Homo sapiens: one gene and its partner. The protein of the gene in region 1 purifies or fractionates together with the protein of each later gene. This does not show direct contact. Each region holds a gene or a part of one and is shown on either strand. Other genes may lie near its edges.

What was found. Proteins that work in one complex are often made in the same cells at the same time.
Region 2: the proteins of NSMCE2 (region 1) and WAPL fractionate together in Homo sapiens (co-fractionation; one study listed by BioGRID). This does not show direct contact.

Annotation. Positions count from the first base shown.
Region 1 is NC_000008.11:125,353,574-125,357,561, forward strand, and holds part of NSMCE2 (E3 SUMO-protein ligase NSE2), read left to right. Parts: intron 1-3,645; coding exon 3,646-3,746; intron 3,747-3,988. UniProt on the Homo sapiens protein: E3 SUMO-protein ligase component of the SMC5-SMC6 complex, a complex involved in DNA double-strand break repair by homologous recombination. Is not be required for the stability of the complex.
Region 2 is NC_000010.11:86,437,863-86,441,850, reverse strand, and holds part of WAPL (wings apart-like protein homolog), read left to right. Parts: intron 1-3,835; coding exon 3,836-3,931; intron 3,932-3,988. UniProt on the Homo sapiens protein: Regulator of sister chromatid cohesion in mitosis which negatively regulates cohesin association with chromatin. Involved in both sister chromatid cohesion during interphase and sister-chromatid resolution during early stages of mitosis.

The DNA of each region.
Region 1 (3,988 bases):
TGGTACCTGCCCTATTAAATATCGTTTTAGGACGGGTGCAGTGGCTCACGCCTGTAATCCCAGCACTTTGGGAGGCTGAGGCAGGCGGATCACAAGGTCAGGAGTTCGAGACCAGCGTGGCCAACATGGCGAAACCACGTCTCCACTAAAAATACAAAAATTAGCTGGGCCTGGTGGTGGACGCCTGTAGTCCCAGCTATTTGGGAGGCTGAGGCAGGAGAATTGCTTGAACCCGGGAGGCAGAGGTTGCAATGAGCCAAGATCGTGCCATTGCACTCCAGCCTGGGCGACAAGGGCAAGACTCCGTCTCAAAAACTAAAAAATAAAAAATATATATATATATAATTTTATTGCTGTCAATTTGTTGTTTTTTTTTGAGACGGAGTCTTGCTCTGTCACTCAGGCTGGAGTGCAATGGCATGATCTCTGCTCACTGCAATCTCCACCTCCCAGGTTCAAGCAATTCTCCTGCCTCAGCTTCCTGAGTAGCTCAGGTTATAGGCGCCCACCACCACGCCCAGCTAATTTTTGTATTTTTAGTAGAGAAGGGGTTTCACCATGTTGGTTAGGCTGGTCTCGAACTCCTGACCTCAGGTGATCTGCCCACCTCAGCCTCCCAAAGTGCTGGGATTACAGGCGTGAGCCACCGCACCCAACCTTGCTGTCAAAATTTTGAAAAAATATTTGTATAATTTTGCTTTGGAAATAGGTTGGCTACCAGTAACTGATTTAATTTGTAATTGACTATTAGTTTCAGCAATTATCTTACCATACTGGGAAATTTTTATGAAGTTTATGAAGAAATAAATCCAGCCCTACATATTACTTCCAAATTATGTATTTTCGATTACCGGATCAACAATTAATGAAGTTAACTTCACATTTGCATAGACCTTTAACATTTAGTAATTTCAGTACTATTGTTATTCTGTTTTGAAGCCAACCAATGGTTTTTAAGGTCTCAGACGTTTGTTTAGCTCTCTGAAAAGCTGGAAGCCCCGAGGCACTGCACCTTAATGCCCAGTGGTTAAAAATGCTCTGACTGGTTATTCCCAAGCCCTGAGATCTTCACTGCCTTCTTCAAAGAATAAAAGCTGGTTTAGGGGACAGCAAGCTGGCATACAAATATACCAGTCTACTCCAAGAAGGTGACTCTCTAAGAAAAACAAAGTAATTGGAGGCAGAATCCCTGTGTTGCAATTAATTCACCAGGTTACCTTGAACAAGAGCTCTGCAGCCCTTTCCCTGCCCCTCAGTACAGCTTGAGCATCCCTAATCCCAAAATCCAAAACCCACAATGCTCCAAAATCCAAAACTTTTTGAGCACCTACATGACGCCACAAGCAGAAAATTCCACATCTGGCCTCATGCAACAAGTACACATGAGTGTTAAAAATGCTGCATAAAATTAGCTTCAGGCTATGTGTGTAAGCTTTATATGAAACATAAATGAAATTCATGTTTAGTCTTGGGTCCCATCCCCCAAGATATTTCATCATGCTTATGCAAATATTTCAAAGTCCGAAATCCGAAACACTTCTGGTCCCAAGCATTTCGGATAAGGGATACTCAACCTGTAGTGCCTTTGCAAACAAACACCTCATCTGGCCTAGGTGATGGCCCACAGTCATCAGTTCTATGGAACCGAAAGGTATGCCACACCATCTGAACCAGAAACAAGGGCTTCCTCTCACACATTGAGGAAAGCCATTTTTATGTCTGTATTATTTTGCCAAAATTAAAGAAGGAAGGGAAGGGAGAAAAGAGTAGAGAAGGGAAAGGGAAAGGAGAAGGAAGGAGAAAGGACTACACCATCAACATGTTTAGAAAGCTACTGATCTTTTGGCTGGGCCCCGTGGCTCATGCCTGTAATCCCAGCACTCTGGGAGGCCAAGGCGGGCAGATCACCTGAGGTCAGGAGTTCAAGACCAGCCTGGCCAATATGGTGAAACCCCATCTCTACTAAAAATACAAAAATTAGCCAGGCATGGTGTCGTGCACCTATACTCCCAGCTACTCAGGAGGCTGAGGCAGGAGAATCACTTGAACCTGGGAGGCGGAGGTTGCAGTGAGCCAAGATCGCGCCATTGCACTCCAGCCTGGGTGACAGAGCGAGACTCCATCTCAAAAAAAAAAAAAAAAAAAAAAAGCTATTGATCTTTAACTTCTGTGCAAAATTACAAGTATCTTTTCTTCAGAGAGAATGGCTTTCATGTGAGATACTCCCATCATCCCATTCAAATGTTGTCTATCATCTGTTTTTGGTTTGGTTTGGTTTTTCAGTTGGGGGCCAATGGGATGTAACTCAAAGAACATCAGTTTCAGAAGCAGCTCATGCTCTGTTCAAAGCCAGTCCTGTCACTATCACTCAGCAGTTCTCAAAGTGCAGGCCAGGGATCTCTAGGGTGCTCCAAGGGTCTTTCAGAGTGTCCATAAGGTCAAAACTGTCTTTATAATAATAGTATGATCTCATCTGCCTGTTTCACTCTCATTCTTTTCATGAGTGAATTTTCCCAGAGACTACAGGATATGTGATATTGTGACAGATTGAATGCATACGCAGATATCCAAATCCAACTGGCTGCTATGAAGCCAGACATTCAAGATATTTATAAAAATGGAAAACAATGCCATTCTTCTCATTATGTATGTCTGTGTGTATGGGGGGGGGTGTTCTGGAAATATAATTTTAACTTTTAAAATGTTTATGGTAACACGTAGTGGGATTATTACTGTTACTTTTAATTTTTTGGTTTTTTTTTTTTTTTTTTTTTGAGACAGAGTCTCGCTCTGTCACCAGACTGGAGTGAAATGGCAGGATCTTGGCCCACTGCAACCTCCAACTTCTGGGTTCAAGCGATTCTCCTGCCCTAGCCTCCCAAATAGCTGGGACTACAGGCACATGCCACCATGCCCAGCTAATTTTTGTAGTTTTGGTAGAGATGGGGTTTCACCATGTTGGCCAGGATGGTCTCGATCTCTTGACCTCGTGATCCGCCCACCTCAGCCTCCCAAAGTGCTGGGATTAAAGGCGTGAGCCACCGCAACCGGCCTTATTGTTATTTTTTAATGAATTTTAAATTCCTTAATCTTAATGTCTAATATGTTAAATATTGATAAATATAACCCACATAGAAAAAGCTTAAAAGAGTTCATACCTATAACTAAAAAGTTTGAGAAGCCCTGCACTACCTAATTGTAATGACTGTTTATTGATTATTGCTTTGTACCATGAGCTGTGCAAAGCATACCACATTCTTCATCTCTTTTAATCTTTGCCACAAGGCTGTAAAGCAGAGGCTTTAAAAAAGGGCACCTTGCTAGCCCAGCGTCTCACCACTGGACAAGAAAGAGATCACCAGGTCGGTTCTCTGACTCTGAAGCCACACCCTTGGTCACTTTCTCTATAACTTTAAAAAAGATTCTTTTTAACTGCTCTGAGCCTCAGTTTCCTTATCAAAAATAGTCAGAATGAGGTACCCCGTAGTGTTCTCTGAAAAGCAGAAGAGTTTCTATGCATCCAGTCCTTACATGGGGGCCAACAGCAAATGCTCCCCCAGAAACTCTTCACCTCCCTTCCTTCCATTCCTTCCTTTTCTTTGACGTTAGACCAGAGAGGCTTATCAACTCTCCATTTTCCTCTAGGTGGTCTTCAAGCTGACAGAGAAGCTGACGGAACAGAAGGAGTGGATGAAGATATAATTGTGACCCAAAGTCAGACCAACTTCACCTGCCCCATTACAAAGGTACCGCTTCCTCCTACTTCCCCTGAAAGAAACACGATTCACTTCACAGAGGCAGAAAGGTTCCTGTTTGCTTTCTGGTTTGATTTCACTTAGGGAGTTAAGGAGGGAGTAAAGAAAAGTGCTGGGGGTTGAAGAGTATCCACGGGAGGTTCTTGGGCTGGAGAGAGCTGTCAGTCAATCATGCCCTGAAGGATCCGGGACTAAAGTCATGGCCTACAGGCCAAGTGACAGTACTGCCACTG
Region 2 (3,988 bases), on another chromosome or scaffold:
CTGTATTTTTTTGTAGAGACAGGGTTTCACCATGTTGTCCTGGCCGGTCTCGAACTCCTGGGCTCAAGTGATCCTCCTGCCTCGACCTCTCAAAGTGCTGGCATTATAGGTGTGAGCCACAGTGCCCACCCCATTTCTCTCTTTAAACTGCTGTCCTCCACATGTTGTCCTCTGCTAGCCCTTATGGTCCCGTGCTGACTACAGCTAGGTGTCTCATCAAATTAAGTAGTGCCTAGCAGTAATAGGGCCTCTTCCTCTATAGTTTTTTTTTTTTTTTCATAGGTGCATTGGCTGGAAATACATATCTTTTTAAGACAACTGTTTGTTTATTTCCCCTGTGGGACCCCATGCCACTCTCACCCCTCACCAGGTAGACTTCTCATCTTGGCCAGCATTGGGTCACAATGCTTTTGTCTGAACCAGTCACTGGCTGGGAACATGGGATTACTGTGAGTGGATTAGATCATCAGGATTCACTTAGGAGAAATACAAATGTCTAGACAATCAGGCTGAGTCAGCCTGAAAGTGAAAGGTTGTGACTATGGGGATAGTCTGCTGCCTTGGGAAAAACAAATATGAAGGGTAAAACTGTTGAAGAAGGGTCCAGCAGAATCATTGTGAGTGTTCTCTTTCAGATGGGGGGTTGGGCATAGGTGGATTATTTTTAAGTGTAAAGTCCATTTGTAAAGCCAGATTTTGAAATGGAAGGCAGATTGTTTTCTAGGAGCAAGGGCATTGAGGGAACAAGAAAGAGTGGAGACCTATAGGAGGGGGGCATTAGTTTCAGCAGGAAGCAGGGGCCATCTCTTTTTGAAGCTGGAGGACTGGAAGAACAGAGTTAATGATAAATGAATGGCTTTATTTGAGCAGGAACTCATGCTGGCTCTGTGTACCTGGGCCCATCTACCCACCCCACGTTTCCTTACTTTAGCCATCTAATTCTTTGTATTGCCTTTTTTTTTTTTTTTCACTTTGTGTATCTAAGTCCTGTGTGTTTTTCTGAATCCATCTTGTCCATCTCTTCCATACTTAACATTTTAACTAACCTAAATACAACAGCCCACTCTGTGTGGCCCCTCTGGGTACCGCCGATTTCAGGATCAAGACCAAAGTTCTCATCGTGGCTCTGGAGGCCCCGCAAGATCTTTATATCCCTTTTTCTTATTTCCAATGACAAGATTTTAAGAGCAAATCAGAAACCCATCACACACAGGAAAGGAGGAAGAGGCAGGCCTCAAAAGCAGTGAAAAAAGGCCGGGCGCAGTGGCTCACGCCTGTAATCCCAGCACTTTGGGAGGCCAAGGTGGGCAGATCACAAGGTCAGGAGATCGAGACCATCCTGGCTAACACGGTGAAACGGTGAAACCCCGTCTCTACTAAAAATACAAAAAAAAAATTAGCCGGGCGTGGTGGTGGGCACCTGTAGTCCCAGCTACTCGGGAGGCTGAGGCAGCAGAATGGCGTGAACTCGGGAGGCGGAGCTTGCAGTGAGTGGAGATCGCACCACTGCATTCCAGCCTGGGCAACAGAGCGAGACTCCATCTCAAAAAAAAAAAAGCAATGAAAATAATATTTAAATTTAAAGATTTTTAGATACTCTGTTTTTTACACACTATAGGTTTAGTCATATTTCAGTCACGTTCTTTCTTACATAATCGTTCTTGAAATTGTGTTATTACCACATATGATTTATCTTGGGCCATCTTTCCCATGCTAATTCCTATTTGTGTTTGCCTGTATCTATCTTGTCTCTAAAAAGAGAATGTTCTTAAATTGTGGGAAATGTTGTGAATTCATAGAGCCCCAGATTTATTTGTTGCCTTGGAGATTATTATGATTAACACCAAAAAGCTAGCTGATACCACAAAATGTAAAGGAAGTTTGGTTTACCTAATGTGTAAGTGAAAAGAGATAGACAAGAAAGCATGTGGTTGTTGCAGTAAATGCTGCTTTGTGGTCTGATCCCATTTTCACTTGCCCTCCATGTCTTCTCACTTTGCAGCTGGTGCATTGCAGTGGTCAGTCTCCTCACTGCTCTTCCTGCTTTGTTGCCCCTCCATTCCTGGGACATTGCACATTGCCACTGGAGCTAACTTACTTCAGAGCACTTACTGATCACGTAGCTCCTTGCCCAGTCTTCCTTGGCTCACAGCCAGGAAGGGGACTCATGACTGTTTAGTGTTGCAAGACCCTGGACTTAAGACTGCTTCTCCAATTTCCAAACCTACTGGACACTTTTAAAATTTTTCAAATAGGCCATGCTGTATCATGCCTTTTCTTTTTGTACCTGCTATATTCTGTTAAAAAATGCTGTCACTGTCCCTCCCATTGCCTCAGAAACGCTGTATGTCATGTTCTGTAGTGTGTTGATAGAGAAGGGTTTGATTTGGATTAATGAGGGGCTTTCATCCAAAATATAGGAGCTAATCATATATTCTCTATTACAGAGGCGTACTTTTCTACTGAGCAGTTCTCCAGAGACACCTTAGCCACTATTTTGCCCACCACTGTGATAGCTTTTGGTGGGAGGATCAGTTTGAATGTGTGTAACTGATATCTTCAGCACATGAGTACTTTAGCAGTGTTTTGATTAGATCTTTTCTGAAGCTGTATTCATCTCATTTTTTTGCTGCTTTCTAATTTTGCGAGTACCCTGGCATGGGAATAGGAAAAAGGGGGTGGGTAGTGGCAAATTTCTGAAGAGAAATATGTCATCTCTCCTTTTTTGCCCCCGCTAACAAAAGTCGAATTGGGAGCTTTTGTGTGTTTTCTTTTTGTTTTTTGGTTGGTTTTGTTTAACCCTTTACCTTGTGTCCCCAAACTTGGGACAGTATACTTTCTTTTGCCCCTTACTACAGGTGAACCTTCCTAAAAGATTTTTTCTTTTTATTCTCCGTAAAACATTTAAAGCATTCTTTAATGAAATAGTTTTTTAAGCAGGTTGTGTAATGTTTTCCATGTAACAGATTGGTTTATATATAGTTTGGCTGCTTCTTGCTAATAATGAAGGGTTTTCTCTCCTGATATTGTCTGAGAATCTATCATAGATGAGGTTAGATTGCCTTTGGAAAGATGCTTCTAGTTAATTCCTGTCCTATATAATTAGTTGAATTCATCTGTGAAGGATGTGAATTTTTCTTTGATCTTTTTATTTCATGAGCAGCTTTGTGAGTACATTCTCAGGTCTAAAGTCCTCACCCTCTTCTCCTATTCCCCCAGGGCCCCCAGTGAAACACACACATACATTAAACAGTGCAGTTTGTTATTTCAGGCCTTTTTCTTTGCATTTATGAAAGTAGGTCGGCATGCTGCCTCACACCTGTAATTCCAGCACTTTGGGAGGCCAAGGTGCGTGGATTACTTGAGCCCAGGAGCTCGAGACCAGCCTGGCCAACATGATGAAACCACGTCTCTGCTAAAAATACAAAAATTAGCCAGGCATGGTGGCACGTGCCTTTAATCCCGGCTACCCGGGAGGCTGAGGCATGGGAATCACTTGAACCCAGGAGGTAGAGGTTGCAGTGAGCTGAGATTACACCACTGCACTCCAGCCTGGGTAACAGAGTGACTGTTTCATTTAAAAAAAAAAAAAAAAAAGTAAATGTGTACACAAATATTTCTTTGTAGCTTTTGCCAACTTTACCTTTCTCCTTTCTTTCTGAGGGTGAGGTAGGAAATCACATGCAGAGTGAGTGTGGAAAGAGAATAAATAACCACGTGTTCCAAGGATCTTAAAAATTTGCACCAAGATGTGTGTCAAAACCAACAACATTGTACGAGGTGCAATCTCATGTTTTCTGCCAGCTGACCAATATTTCTTGCTCTGTTTCCTCAGATCAATGTAACCACTGTGCGGGAATATCTGCCAGAAGGAGACTTTTCAATAATGACAGAGATGCTCAAAAAATTTTTGAGTTTTATGAATCTCACTGTAAGTAGCTTTTATTACAGCTTATATGATTTTAAATTTATAATACATTGACAGTAG